2 linked regions of the Homo sapiens genome follow. The protein of the gene in region 1 interacts with the protein of each later gene in a pairwise test. Each region holds a gene or a part of one and is shown in the gene's direction. Other genes may lie near its edges.

Region 1 (7,563 bases):
GGAGTGGGTAAATATAAACTCACCAAGGAGGAGGATTCAATGTATAGAGAGAGGCCCAAAATATCAAAGAGAGGAGATGCCTGGAAAAGGAAGGTGCTTATGGGAGTGGGAGGAATCAGATTAAGAGGCCAATTTGCAAATTGAACATCCCTACTATGAGAATCCAAAATCCAAAGTGTTCCAAAATCTGAAACATTTTGAGCACTGACATGACACTCAGTGAAAATGTTCATTGGAGCATTTCAGATTTTGGATTTTGGGATTTGGAATGTTCAATCAGTGTAACACAAATATTCCAAAATCTGAAAAAATCCAAAATCCTAAATGATTCTGGTCACAAGCATTTCAGATAAAGGATGCTCAACCTCTGTTAGAAAGATAAGAAGATGCAAACAGATGGTGTGATGGGAAAGTGAAAAGGCAGAAGTGAAGAGAACCTCCCTCCTTCTGTACACATGTGGTTAGAGGGTATTTTGCATGTCTGGAGAGGGGCTCAGTTGGAGCCTGGGAGCTAGAGAGGAACCTGGACAAATTTTGTGATGGCTGCTTTGGGGAGGTAGTGGCTGGAGTGTGGGGCACTTAGAACGTCAAGTAGCAGCGAGGACCCTGTTGACTTTCAGTTCATGAGTATCTACTTATGTGACACCACTAAGTGCAGAAGATACAGAATAGATAAAACTCAAATAACTGCCTCTTTTATGGTCTCACTTACATTCTGTAGCTCTAACCTGAACTGATGAGCAAGTTTTCCACATCTCATTAATTCACTTCCTACCATTGTCACTTTATTGTCCCTGTAAGTTACCTCTACTATTTGCTCAGTAATTTTCTTGAAATTACCTCTTATTTTACATATAAAGATAGAAAAAAGGAAGCTATATATCATTACTTATACTTTTATATTGTATTTGTCCAAACAATGCATTCTTAAAAGTAGTTTTAAAATACAAAACTATTTGACATTTTGTCAAAGGTTCCTTTCCATTTCACCTAAAATAATCTTGTGTACCATTAGTAGAACATAGACCATGCCTTGGGAACGATGAAACTGGTTGGTTGGTAGCGTTCTTTTTTTTTTTTTTTTTGAGACAAGTTTTGCTCTTGTCACCCAGGCTGGAGTACAGTGGTTCAATCTCGGCTCACAGCAACCTGCACCTCCGGGGTTCAAGCAATTCTCCTGCTACCACACCCGGCTAATTTTTGTATTTTTAGTAGAGATAGGGTTTTATCACATTGGCCAGGCTGGTCTCAAACTCCTGACCTCAGGTGATCTGCCTGTCTTGACCTCCCAAAGTGCTGGGATTCCGGGTGTGAGCCACCGTGCCCGGCTGGTAGAGTTCTTTGGGTCATTCAGAGCAAGGATTTTTTTTCCATGTTAGAGTATATATATGGCCTTGGTTTTTTTTATACAAGCAGGTCAGCTTAGCTGGCATGATCTGAATAAAATGGAAAAAGGCAGGCACCTCTTTGCCTGACAATTTTAAAGTGTTGCTATTTGAATACCAAGAAGTTTGAAGCTTGACTGCAGGGCCTTCCCAATTAATCTAGTCTGGAAAAAAAAAAACAACGAAAATGCCGTCAAGTAACAGGAGATTTGTCAGCTGCCCTGTTTACACTTTTCATATAAAACATAAAGGTTGGCAGATTATAGATGAAAGGTCAGTTCAGCAAAAAAGAAAATATGTCAGACAATCTCATAACATCGGTAACAGAGGATAGAAGTTGGAAGCTACTACTGGATTCTCGGAAAAAGATGAGTTTGTTGGTGATGTGTAAATATCATCACCTTTTTTGTGGCTCTTCATTTTGGTGGCTACCTTTTTATGCTGAGTCTCCAAAATTTGATTTAAAAGACACCAAAGATGCTTGTCTTTCTGAGAAAGATTTACTTTGCAGCAGTTTTACTAAAAAGAAAGAAAGAAAGAAAGAAAGGAAAAACCCAGTCTGAAGGGGGAAAATATACTTCCTTTGCCATAGTGGCTAGTCTCACCCACGCTGTCCCTGAACCCGAGCCCTAAAACGAGGATAAATTGAGAAACCCAGGCTTCCTGCAAGAGCGGTGGCACATAATGAAAGGGTTTACAGTGAGTCCCATCATCGTGAATGATTAAAGGGGAACTGGGCAACTACAGTGTGACTTGTACAGGTAAAATCTTCTGCTCTAAGAATCACACAGTAAGGACCGGCCTTGGAAGACATTGCTGTCTGGGAAAACGTTTTAGCCTGTTCCGGCTTTGGGAGCACAGGTGAATTGGGGCGGGGAGCACTATTAGACTCATAGGGTCACAGAGCCATGATATTAGAGTTGTAGGGTCTCTCACAAATTTCCAGCATGTGCAGTACTGGGAATTTGTGGCCCTATTGATATATCTTTCATCTGCACTTGAAGTTCTGGAATTGTGCAAGATACCACCATTCTATCCAAACAACTTGCTATGTACATCATACTCTTAATTACCAAATTCGCATAAACATGCATTTGAGGGAGGCTTCCTATTCTTTTTTGAACTCTTCAGCATAGCCTTACAAATAACTGAGGCCAAAGACGTGACATACAGCACTGTGGGCTAGTAGTCAAAGATATCCATTGCTGCTTGGCCTCAGCGTTTCTGGTTTCCTCTCTCTGCAGTGTTATTTTCTATCAGACTGCTTTCATCTCTCTCTTAAGCCTCCCCATTATTGCCCTTGCTATATATGCAATTTTATTATTGTCAGAAATCTAACAATTAATAACTAAAGAAAAGGCAGTAATATACAAAACATGGTTTGGCAGTCTTAAAAACTGCTTCAATATTAGCAAATATGTTTGTGATGTGCTGCTGAGACTGTGTGGACTTCACAATGTAATCTTTACAGTTTGAATTGCTGAAATCCAAGTGGACTGACGATGGAACTTGCTCCCCTCACCTCCCCCCACCCCCCGCCCACAAAATTCTCTTCCCCACTAAGTTTCCTTAATGAAATCATTGAGACTCTGGCTTGCTGGTAAGGACCAGTTCTTACAACAAGTGTATCCAATTTCCTGCTAGTGGTAACTTTAATTCTTCCTGGAATAGCAGGAAACATTAATTTCACATCAGACCCATAGGTCTCAGAAAGCTGGAATTATAGGTGCCATTGTCCCACTCTTTTTTTCCTCCAAAATAAAATAAAATAAAAAGCAGCAGATGAACAGTGAGGCTTGAGGGATGGGTAGTGACAGAGTAAGGAAAAGAACATTAATTTCAGGTGGGGACAGCTGCCCGGCACTATCTCCCTTTGGATTTTCGTTCTTATAGCATCACGGTGAGTTATTAATATGTATGACCCGTACTTTATTCAAACATTATAAATCTATGCAGAAGTCTGGTGTTTGGGTTTTCCTTTATAGCTTTCATTCTTCTTCCCAGAATTATCTCATTTTGATCAGGAAACTTTTGCATAAAAAGCACACACTGAGAACTCACATTTCCATACCATAAATATTAAAAGAGGGTTAAACTTTACAGTTTCTTCTCCCATCCCAATAGGAGGAAAGTTAGCCTTCTAATCAGGGGGCCCTTACTAATGTTCTTTTTATTCACAACCCAAAAAGGAAACTTAAAATTAGAGTTGAAATATGAAATTATACTATCTGGTTCCTTTAATGTATGTCAATTATGGAATGTTTGACTATGCCATGTCTTTAGTATGAAGCATATACTAAAAATCTAGTAGTTATCTAAGTTGTTAAGAATAGTTGGTTAGATTATGTTTTGAGGACCAAACTAGGTACAGACCTTCTCTTAAGGATCGTGATTAAAGAGCTTTTTACTGGATAAATATAAAGTGTGGATTCATTACCCTGTGGATTCATCACAATGAATACATAGCATACAGAAGAGGGAAATGGAACTAGAAAACTTAATGTCTTTTTAGCAACGTTTTAGCTACTTAGCAGCTTCCTATTTCCCGTTATTGTCATTTTTGTTAGCATAAAGTAGTAGTCATAAATTCCAGTTCACATGGAAATGTAAAGGAATTTGCGAGCTATTTCATTTGGGTGAGCTGTCTGCTAATCACACAGTCTCGGCTGTTGTACTTTGTGATGGGAAATGAACGTGCTAATTGGTGCTCTTTTTTCTTATTTCAGGAAACCTGCCATATGAATATAAAATAGTGATTGCTGGGAATCATGAACTGACATTTGATAAGGAATTCATGGCAGACCTTGTTAAACAGGACTACTACCGTTTCCCCTCTGTGTCCAAATTGAAACCAGAGGACTTTGACAATGTTCAGTCCCTCCTGACAAACAGTATTTACTTACAAGATTCGGAGGTAACAGTGAAGGGATTCAGGATATACGGTGCACCTTGGTAAGTGATGATTCAAACAGTTTTCCACATTGCTTTTTAGCTCAGTACCAAGAAAACACAGCTCAGATTTAGATGCTTTAAATGAAAATGATTAGGATGAAAGGAAACCTTATTGCTGTATTTCCAACAAAATACATACTGTACTGCTGCAAAATGCAACACTTGTTGTTTTCATTGTGATAGAGATCCCTTTAGGCAAGATCAATAGGAGTTAAAGCTTTCCTAGATATATACAGTCATGCCTCCCTCAGTGTCCATGGGGTATTGGTCCAGGACCTCCCACTGATAAAATTCCATCATGCTCAAGTCTTTTATATAAAATGGTGTAGTATTTGCATATAACCTATGCACATCCTCGTGAAGACTTTAAATCATCTCTAGATTACTTATAATACATAATACAATGTAAATATGATATAAATCATTGTTATGTTTTATGGTTTAAGGATTAATGACAAAAAATATCCAACATAGAGGCAATCCTTTTTCCAATATTTTCTTTTCTTTTCTTCTCTTTTCTTTCTTTCTTTCTTTCTTTTTTTTTTTTTTTTTTTTTTTGAGGTGGAGTATCTCTCTGTTGCCCAGGCTGGAATGCAGTGGTGTGATCTCAGCTCACTGCAACCTCCGCCTCCTGGGTTCGAGCAATTCTCCTGCCTCAGCCTCCAAAGTACCTGGGATTACAGGCACATGCCACTGTACCCGGCTAATTTTCATATTTTTAGTAGAGACGGGGTTTCACCATGTTGGCCAGGCTGGTCTTGAACTCCTGACCTCAGGTGATTGGCCCGCCTTGGCCTCCCAAAGTGCTGGGATTACAGGTATAAGCCACCGCTCCTGGCCCTTTTTCTAATATTTTCTATCCTTGGTTGGTTAAATCCCTGGATGCGGAACCTCTGATTATGGAGGGCTGGCTGTATATGTTTATGTTACTGGGGCTGGGTGTATGTCTGTGTGACACAGAAGGATTTGAGAGGAGGTCACCATGCTACCCTTCACATAGATTCAGCTGCTCTGAACATTCCATCAGCCTTAGGTAACTCATTTCCCTCTCATTTTGTACTGGAAGCAGTCATAAAATATCTTGCTTAGATTAGGGTTTCTCAAACCTCCCTACACATCAGAATTACCGTCTCTGTAGAAATATAGATTTTGAAGCCCTTCCTCCAGAGACTCTGATTGTCCTTCCTGAGATGAAGCCCAGCAGTTTGTATTTTTTAAAGTTACCTGGGCAAGACTGATGCACAGGTGGTTTGAAAGTTACTGGTTGAGAGCTGGCACTAGAATTCTCAGAACTAAGCTCTGGAAAACTTGAAACAGGTACATGTATCCTTGGAGGCCAGACAAGAAGCGTGTCAATCTTGATTGTATCAGTTGACAGTTGTCAGGTTTTAAAGGAGTTACTTCACAGTGTCTGAGCCTCAGTTTTCACATCTCTAAGATGGTGAAGATGATACCTATTTTAGAGGGTTATGATAAGGATAAAATAGGTAAAGTTTGCAGTGGACTGAAGAGAATATCGGATAGTTTGCTTAGGGTATGAATTATAATTTTTCTGGCCTTGGGCTCTCCCACTAAGTATTTATGTGAACTTAGGCAAGTCATTTAGGCCCTAGAGCCAGTTTTTTTTTTTATCTTTAAAATGAGAATGTTAGACTAAATGATTGTCAATATCAGCAGGTTCTAGGACTTTTTTTTTTTTTGAGGGTGTATATAGAGCAAAACTAACCTGTGTGTGTGTATGTAGAGCAGAAGAACTCACCTTTACTCACTTAATACAGAAAAGTACCCCAGTCCTTCACTAGGAGTTGTGGATAGGACTGGAAAAAGACAAGCAGACTGAATTCAGATTGGTCACTTTACTCAACAGTTTGGCTTGTCCTCTGTAAGTTAAAAGGTTGAGATATTTTCTTTTTTTTTTTTTTTTTGAGACGGAGTCTCGTTCTGTCGCCCAGGCGGGAGTGCTGTGGCGCGATCTCCGCTCACTGCAAGCTCCGCCTTCCGGGTTCACGCCATTCTCCTGCCTCAGCCTCCCGAGTAGCTGGGACTACAGGCGCCCGCCACTGCGCCCGGCTAATTTTTTGTATTTTTAGTAGAGACGGGGTTTCACCGTGGTCTCGATCTCCTGACCTCGTGATCCGCCCGCCTCGGCCTCCCAAAGTGCGAGATATTTTCTATAATTTTTTTTCTAGCTTTACGAGTTGGTATCCAGAAGGACTGGTGAGTGGGTACAGGAAGTACATATCTGTTTAAAATCAACCCCGACAATGATTTTGAACTCTTAATTAAGTACTTCCTATATGCCAGGCATTGTCCTACATTTTTTGTATACGTGTCATCTTATTTAATCCTCAAAATACCTTTAGGAGATGGGCACTATTATGATTCTCATTTGGCAGATAAGAAAATCCAGGTGCAGAAAAGTTAAGTAATTGCTCAAGAATCGCCACAGATAATAAGAGGTCTGATTTGAACCTGACAAGTCTGATTCCAGGGTGTACAGCATGACTGAGGGGTGGCAGGGGTTGGGATGTGGTAATTGGTGGTTATAATCCTCAGATCCAGTTTATACCTAGCTTTATTTAGTAAGGTACGTCAATTTATTTTTTTAATGTGTGAGAACGTGGTAAAGGGCAAGAGAATAAACAGCAGAAATCAGTCCTGTCAAACTGTAATCTGGGGTCATGTAGGATGTTGATATTAGCATTTCTGGGTAAAGGGCAGGAGACAGAGCATTTCCAGCTTCACAGCCCAGTTCTTAATGTCAGTACAGTAGTTGAGGAATGACCTCTGATTGGCAGAGGTGCTCTACATGCAAGTTAAGATCATTGTTTAAAAATAATTTAAGATTACTTTTGAAAAAATCCTTAAAAGGCACAGGACATTTAAGGCTATTCCTGAGCAAGCAGATGTTCAGAAATCCCTGGACTGATAGTTGCTGAAATGATGACAGCAACAAACTTCCTCCATTATCTGAGCTGATTCAAATCTGTTTAGGACAGGGTTCAGCTAAACTAGATTGTAGCTGTGATGAATGAGGGAATGATTTTGGTCCTCAGGCAGATCTTGCAGCATCTCAAGCAATCGAACAAACAGACTAATTCAGATATGTGATGTGGCAGGGCATGATCTGTTTTTGGTGGTGCTGCAAACTGCAGACAAAGTTTATATCTGAACTGGATTGATATCATTTAAAATGTTTTAATTTTAATACTGGCAAGGTAGCAAA
Region 2 (8,279 bases), on another chromosome or scaffold:
ATGGTTCTATTAACACCTATCAGCCTTGAACCTTCCAAAAATTAAACATTTAAAGTCACTTTGCACCTTAGTCAAATGGCGTGCTTCTGGAGAGAAATCTGGGAAGATCAAAGTTATTAACACTCCCGATGGCAACAGTTTAAGAATAGGATGTGTTAAAAAAAAAAAAAAAAAAAGACATATCTGGTTAAAACTGCAGGGGGGATTCCAAGAGCAAATGCAATGCATCTGGACAGGACATGGAGGCCAGTGGCCTATTGTTTACAAAAACAAGCCTGGATTATGAACAGTGACAAGAGGCCAAGACCTCAATAATAACTCACAACCACACCTCTCTCAATCCCAGTTCAACTGAAGCTATCAATCAGTCAACTCCCCCATCTCTGTAATAAACCTACCAATATTTGCAGCCAAGTGGATAGAAGGCCCCTTAGGGCACCTCCAGCACTGACCAAACTAATGACATAAAAAAGATCCTGTAGGTACAATGAGGACTTCAGACTACCTTCCAACCTTCCAAGAGATAAGGGAGCTGCCCATTTCAAACTCTACACCTACCCCCACCCCCCAGCAATCATTAGAGGGGAGCCATGGCCCTTCCCAAGTCCTCTCTGATAGGAAAAGGTCTCCTTGCACTGGTGCAGGGAAAGGAGGGGCCCCTCCCTCTGTACTCTGAAACAAAGGAAAACCCAGAGCTCCAACCATGTGGTGTAACATTCAAGGCCACCCACCTCTTCCACTCCCCAGCTAAGGTCTCAATGGGCTGGAGCCACATGGCTCTTTCCAGTGACTGACCAGGAAGGGACAGTGCCTTGCACAAACACATGCTGCAGCTCTTTAACAGGCAGGAACCCTTCCTATGGGAACTGCTGGTTTAAAAAACGCTATCTGAGTAAGGGCTCTTATTCATGAGTCAAGTCAGTCGACTAGATGAGAAGACAGGTCACTTGGTTTCTCCTAGTCCACATTTTGCTTTACCCTTCACATTTTTCAGGAGAGGGAAATGGGGCTTTAAAAGCATGTCTTCCGGAGCAGAGGGCCACAGCACAGAAGGGTTAAACAATTATGTCTTCCCATTTTCCAGAATCAGCACCAACCGGCTACCCTAACATCCTCCCAACTCTATTCAGATTTAGGTGAGGGCGGAGACCGGGCGTGGGTGGCCTTATTCTCTGATCTCTGATTGTATGCAGGCCGACCAGAGACCAGGCAGGTACAAGGTACACCCAAGGTGGCAATGGACTTTTGGTGCCAATGCCATTGCAAATCTCATGTTTTAATATAGTGCATCCGAAAAACCCCGCCTCTCCCAAGGCTCTCCAAATGGTACACCTTCCCAAGGTTGCCTTTCTGTCTGGACTCCTCTTCAATCTCTGAAACAAATGTCCAAACACCTGTCAGATTTCAGTTGTCTTTCAAGGAAACCTGACCCAGAGAACCGGAGGCAAACTGCCTTTCTCTAAGAGCCTCCTGCCCCTCCCCCCACCCTGTCCGGCTTGGGGGGGAAAGGGCTGCCAAAATCATGGTCAGCCCCACAAAGATACTCCTACAGCCCACTGCAAAAATTCCTTTCCAGTGTCAATGGCCCCCTGGCATTGCCCATCCTTTGGAGGTTCAGACCCATCTATGAAACCACCTCTGGGGTCAGCCTGCCCCCATCTGCTCCACCCAAAGAAATGAACAACCTGCAAATCACGGTGGAAATACACGCCTCACCAGTCCACAGAGCATTTGCAGTGTGCTATTTTTCAAAGCCCTTACCTTTGACCTGAGTATCGTACTCTGCTATGATCTCCTTATCCTTTTTGAATTTGGCTGGAGACGTCATGTTTTCCTTCTTTCTTCCAAATTCGAATTGTGAATTGATAGATCCACGGAAAAAATCCAACCACCTAAATCAATACCTCCAAGACCGCTTCTCTCGAGGGCAGAAGGGGCCCCCCACGGTGGTCTCCAGCGCTCCGTGGAGCGCGGGCTGCGGGCTGGGCAGACGGCTACGGCGGGCACATGCAGACGGTGGGCGCTGGGGCCGGGTGCGGCGGCGGCTGGTGCCTGTGCTAGAGCCGGAGCCGCAGCCTCAGCATTAGCCGGGAGAACTGCAGCGCCCGGAGGCTGGCCTGGGGTCTGACATCAACGACACAGGCGGGGAGTGGAAGTCCTTCCGCACAACATGGTGTGGGGCTGCGGGGGTGTGGACGCGCCCAGCTGTGTCCCCGGGAGGGAGTGGGTGCTTTTCGGGGTGCCGGGGGAGGGCTGGGCGTGCTTCGCGGTTTTTTGTCGTAGAGGCTCAAAGATGCTGCAAATCAAATCCCAAACGGGAGCCGCAACAGCGCAGACTGGATCGGAAGTCGTTTGCTCCGGTTCACTTGCCTGTAAATGCAGGAAAAGGGGGAGGGGGCGATCAGCCAGAGCGCAGATCCTAATCGCGGCGGGGGTGGGGTAGGGGACGTCGTTCCGAGCCCGCCCTGGGCCCATTCCTGTCCGCTTAACGTCTCCCCGCCCGCAGAGCCTGGCGCTACGAGGTGGGGAGGAAGGAAGCTCCCTCCGGATTTTAAGGCTGAAAGAAAACACTTTGGAGCAGCCGCCTGCGCGGGCTCCGGGCGGGGACTGCAGGAACGCGGGGCACCAGGCGGGGACTGCGGCACCTCGGCGGCCTCCTGAGCCCCGCCAGCGCTGGGCAGCGGCCAGCCCGAGGGAGCCCTCCCGACCTAGCCCCCGACGTGGCCCCAGACCCCCGGCCGGGGCACCTCCCTGTACATCAAAGGGGATCAAAGCCGGGGAGGGATAAGCCACCAGGGCACAACTTTTCTTCCTCTCCCGCCCCTCCTCCCAGTTGTTTTGTTTTTGGTTACTAGCTTCTCTTGGCAGCAAAATGTTGATGGGGGGGGGGGCAAATCTGCAGGAAAAAGCCTGCTCGGCACGGGACACATCCAGGAAAACAATGTGGTCAGCTGAAGCAGGAAACGGGTTAGAGGATAGGGTCGGAGCCGGGAAAACCGGGGGGCGGCGAGCGGAAGGCAGCCGTCGCCTCCCTCAAGCTAGGGACGATAGTGACTATAAATGCCACCCCCAATATTTTTTTGACACCCAAGCTCAGAGATCCCAGATATCCCACCCAATCCCAGGCTGGGGATGGGAGGAGGTCGGTGAGGTCGCAGTCCTGACTCCTCGCACCAGGCGGTGCCCGAGAAGATCCGGCCCCGGACGAGGCCCAGGGGGCTGGAGGGACGCAAGCGGGAGCGCGGAGCCCGGCGACTAGCTCCCTCGCGTGCCGCAGCGGCGACCCTTTCTACTTGGTCTTTCCTTTTCCTCCGAGCGCCGGGAGGAGGAAGCTCCCGCTAGCGTCTCCCACTTCCCGCGGCTGGAGGAAGGGGCCACGCTGAGGGAACAAGACAGGGAGCAGAGGCGGCGGGGTTCAGGCGAGCGGGAAGCGGGAAGCGAGAGGCGGGTGTGAGATGGGGTCCTGAGGCTGGAAGGGAGCCCGGGGACAATTGGAGTTGCACACGCTCGGAAGGCGGGAGGCGGCAAGGAGAAGGCTGCCTTAGAGGTGAGGGGAATTGGGGCATGATCATGGGCCGCGATGTTGCGTGAAGCGCAAGGATGTCAGGAACTGTGGGGGCCGAGATGTGGTCTAGGGATGGGAGTGGGCGAAGAGAAGTCCATCGGGGCGGGCCGGGGGGTGGGACTCGGGGAGAGCCCCGGAAGCTGCGCGGAACACCCATCCTCCTGGGTCCTAGGCTGGGACCCGGGCTGTCCGCCAGGGCTGGGAGACACTGGAGGAGGCCGGCCGATGATTACGCGCGATGCCAACGACGACTGCCCTACGGTGGACCGCGGCTGCCCGTGTGCGGAGGAAAGGGAGAGGCGGCTGGGTGCCGGCTGCGCTGCGGTCCGTGAGCCAGGACGGAGTCCCAGGCTGTACAGTGATGGGCGGAGAGACTCGCAGTCCTGAGAAGTATTATGGGCTGTACTGGGAGATTTGGAGAGGGTGGAGGGGGGGCGGTCTGAGGGATTCCGGGCGGCACCGCTAAGGCGATGCCGCGAGCAGCATCCGCGCCCTCTCCTTCCCGCCCCAGCCCCGGTTTGTTCAGTCAGGGCTCCAGCCCGGCGGCCGGGAGGAAGAAAAGGAAGAGGGAAGGAGCCTTTACCTGGCTCTGACGCGACGGGTCCCAGGCCCCCGGCTCCGCTTCCCACTCAGAGCTCTCCTCCCCTCTCTTCCCCGCCACCCGTTTCTACGCAGATCGGTGCCCCAGTCCCTGGAGGAGCCTCCGCCAACTCCGCAGGACCCCGCCGGGAAGTAGAGCCCACCCCTTTACCAATCACCGCCCGTTTTCTATCGACCGATGGGGCCCATAGCCAATAGGAAGAGCTGATCCCGAGAGGCCCGGAATGAGGGGGAGGAGCTGGCAAAACTTGGAGGTGTGACTAGCACTGCCGAGGCGTGGTCACAGATTAAGCTCCACCCCGGGTTGTTGAACCCCTAAGTAGAACTGATGGGCGGGATTAAGGTGGAACCGACGACCAAACACAAACTCTTGAGCTAAGGCACGGCCAATTGGGCCGGGGTAGAGAGGAGGGGTGTTGCGGGGAGTTTTAACCAATAAAGAGTAGAGACCGGTGGAGACTGTAGAACCTCTTCCAATAAGAAGCGGGAAGGGCGTGCCTTGCCACTTTCACTAGGGCGAAGGCAGGGTTTGCCGAAACCTCCCGAAGCCGGCCAATGAGATCGGAGGCGGAGCCAAGCTCAGCCAACCAGAAAGCCGAATTGATCTCAGCACCGTTACTGGGGCGGTGCCTACGGTCTTCAAGCCACTAAGCTCTCGTGAGGGGAGGCCCCGGAGCCTTCCAATGAGGGACTGGGGCTAACTCTAGTTCTTCCAATCGGTGCGCGGCGCTGGCAATTCAAACTGATACCGGGTTGGAGAGGCAGGAAAAGCGGAAGAGGGAGCGAAAACCAACGTGTTCGGTGACAGACCCCAGCGCCGACTGAGCCTCTAAAGCGACTTCAGCTCTGCCCCACCAACACCACCGCGCGCCCGGGAACAGCCGCTCCGGGAAGAAACCTGAGGGGACTGCGGGGGGCACGAGGGACAGCTGAGGGAAGGGAGGACGCGAGAGAAACAGCGCGAGCACGCTGAGGGCCGGGGGTTGCCAGGAGAGGGGCCCGCGGACCCGCAGAGCGGAGGAAGGTCCGGGAGAAAAGGGGCGGGACGGAGGAGAATCCGGGATCGCCTGGCAGAAAAAGAGAAGGGAGTTTCTGAATCCTGGGAAGAGGAGGCGTGGGTAGGGACGCTTAGCCCGAGATCCGACAGCAGGGAACCGGAGCGCTCCGGGGGAGGGGCTTAATGCTGGGGAAGGGATGTCTTAAAAGAGGAGAAGCTTTAAATTAGACGATCGGAGAAGGCTGAGGGAATTGCTATGAAGGGGCGGGAGCTGAAGTGTAGAGGACTCCTTTAGACAGCAGAAAGGGAAAGCCGTTGAGAAGTTCCCTTCAAACTCCACCTGCCTCCTCTCCAATTCAAACTCCACTCCCTTCTCCAAAAGTTAAAAGGAAAGCCAAGTTTGCCACGCTCCCCTGTTCCTACTCAATAAATACTTCTTCTACTCCGCCACCGGGAAAACAGAAAAAAAAACTAATTTCCTTCCCAATATTAGGACTTAGAAAAGCTCTAGGTCCCGCAATTTGAATTTTAGCCTAGGGGAATCAAAATAGTAGGAGCATTACTCTTGTTTCCTTTTTCAAAATCCCACACCTCATCCTTCCTGCGACGCCATGTCTACCAACATTTGTAGTTTCAAGGACAGGTGCGTGTCCATCCTGTGTTGCAAATTCTGTAAACAAGTGCTCAGCTCTAGGGGAATGAAGGCTGTTTTGCTGGCTGATACTGAAATAGACCTTTTCTCTACAGACATCCCTCCTACCAAGTAAGTCATGCTAGTGGCGGGCAACGGTAGCTTTTAACTAAATGGGAACACTTATGGCTTGGATCTGTGGGAGTCAACAAGGAGGTTATCATTTCGGTGTTTCAGCCACTCCCACCAGTTTGATGATCCCCTTGGAATATATCTAAGTGGGCAGACTGTCTGGACAAAGTCTGTGGTTTAGCCAAGGTGGTCAGTCCTGATGTAATGCTTCTAGTTCAATTGCAGTCATGCGACCACACATCTCTTAAGTTTGATCCCTGGTTCAGTGCCCTGCCCAACCATCCTATTTCACTGAATCAAGTCCGTGGCGTAGACTTTAGGTAAATTCAGGCAAAATTTTCCGTACTGTTGGAGAGGAGAGGTCATTTAAGTTTTTCATTTTTATCCATGAAATTTTGCACCAAAAAAAAAAAAATCCGTTTTCTATCATTATTTGCAATTGGCATCCTAAATCAGATCCGTTGTTCATCAAATTCAGTTTTCTTTCCTCAAAACTCTCTCTCTCTGAAAGAGATGTAAATAGATTTTTATGGGATGAAAAATAGAGACTTAGCCTTAATCCTTATCTCCAATAAAGACTATTTTGGACATTACACATTTGTTCCCATAATTGAACCCTTTTAAAATCTGTTTGTTTTCAGCCACTAACTGCTTTTGGGTGTAGAGTCCTTAAGAATTTGCTTCCTATTTGGTAAAATAGCCATTTTATTTGACTCAAATAAACCTCTTTCTAGCTCTAAATGGTACTTTCCCTTTCCATAATCAACATATATATGCCCTACATGAATCTTCAAAATTTAGTTATTTATTGAAATTTTATTATTAAAAGGAAAGTAATTATCCAAAATATGAGTGGACAGTTATTCTCTAAGTCTTTGGATATAGAGCCAGAGGAAGCAGGTTAATAACCACAATTCATTTTAAATGAATTTCATGATAATGATAGAAACTTTACAAGTTTTTTGATTTACCCAGGTAAAGCTGTGTACTCTTCCTTTCTTGAAATCTTTTCTGAATTGGTCTAAGTGTAATCATGTCTAACAGCAAAGCCAAAGGCTCTCATTTATTGCAGAGATAAATGTGTTATTTTAAAATCTTTTTAATTTTTTTAAATTCTAAGTTAATATTTTACATTTGTGTGTGTGTACATCGTATATGTATTTCAAAAAAGGGAAAACACTAGAAAATAAATCATAGAACCTACTGCTACAAAGTTCTGTGATTCATTGTCCACTGCTTTTTCTTTTTAGTAGCTCATACACAAATTTAAAATATTAACCCATTCATCTTTGCAATAGCTATGGTAAGTAATAGGGCAGTCATAAGGAAGGCTAGGTGAATTGTTACAGGTTAGACCCAAGTCTAGAATAGAATCATGTTTTTCCCATTTTCTACCCTTCTTTGTAGGGGTTAAAATAATAATGAATTAGCGTGCTAAGATGTATGTGAATCAATGAACACATAAAAATTTTTTTAATGGAAAATTTGTCAGATGTTTATGTTGAGCTCACAAATATGAACTGACTCTTTAAAAATATACTATAGTTCTATGTTAGCTTTCAGCTCTTTGGATTGACAAAATTTGTGCTAAATCAAGCGTAGAATTACTATCTGATCCAGCAGTTCTGGGTACATATCCAAAATAATTCAAAACTGGATCTTGGAAGAGATATTTGCACACCCATGTTCATTAACAGCATTATTCACAATAGCCAAGAGGTGGAAGCAATCCAAATGTCCATTGATTCTACAGATGAACAGATAAACAAAATGTGGTATAGGGCGCCTATAGTTCCACCTACTCAGGAAACTCTGGTAGGAGGGTCACTTGAACCCAGGAGATTCATTACACAGCAATGTGATTATATTTAGCACATCTGCTCTGCACACATAAAACTTGTTAAGTTGGTAAATTTTGTTAATTTTTTGCCACAATTAAATTTTTTGTAAAGTACATCTGACTGTCTTTTTATACCTTTCTCTCTCCAGCGCAGTGGACTTCACTGGAAGATGCTATTTCACCAAAATCTGCAAATGTAAACTGAAGGACATCGCATGTTTAAAATGGTAATTTGTGGCACTATTCTGGATAGCTCTGGGTTTGGAAGATGGATATTGACACCAAAGCATAGAGAAAGGTTCAGTGGGCTGCAACAAGGACTGGTATAAAGCATGCAATGAGCCATTGAAAAATTACTTATTACTTAGAGCTATTTTTTAAAAGGGTTTTCTGATGCTTCACATTAGTATATAATTTTACAGTTTTCAAAGTGTATTCACAGTATCCGCTTCAATTTTCAGAACAAGGCAATGTAGGTTAGGGGGGAGAAACACCTGGATTTACAATAATAAAA

The links. Proteins that work in one complex are often made in the same cells at the same time.
Region 2: the proteins of MPPED2 (region 1) and FAM72A interact in binary tests that used the Homo sapiens proteins (3 or more experiments, as listed by UniProt).

Annotation. Positions count from the first base shown.
Region 1 is NC_000011.10:30,492,070-30,499,632, reverse strand, and holds part of MPPED2 (metallophosphoesterase MPPED2), read left to right. Parts: intron 1-4,111; coding exon 4,112-4,337; intron 4,338-7,563. UniProt on the Homo sapiens protein: Displays low metallophosphoesterase activity (in vitro). May play a role in the development of the nervous system.
Region 2 is NC_000001.11:206,199,520-206,207,798, reverse strand, and holds the start of FAM72A (protein FAM72A), read left to right. Parts: upstream 1-4,959; 5' UTR 4,960-5,773; coding exon 5,774-5,925; intron 5,926-7,914; coding exon 7,915-7,992; intron 7,993-8,279. Other genes in the region: SRGAP2 (SLIT-ROBO Rho GTPase-activating protein 2), read right to left, coding at 1,762-1,828. UniProt on the Homo sapiens protein: May play a role in the regulation of cellular reactive oxygen species metabolism. May participate in cell growth regulation.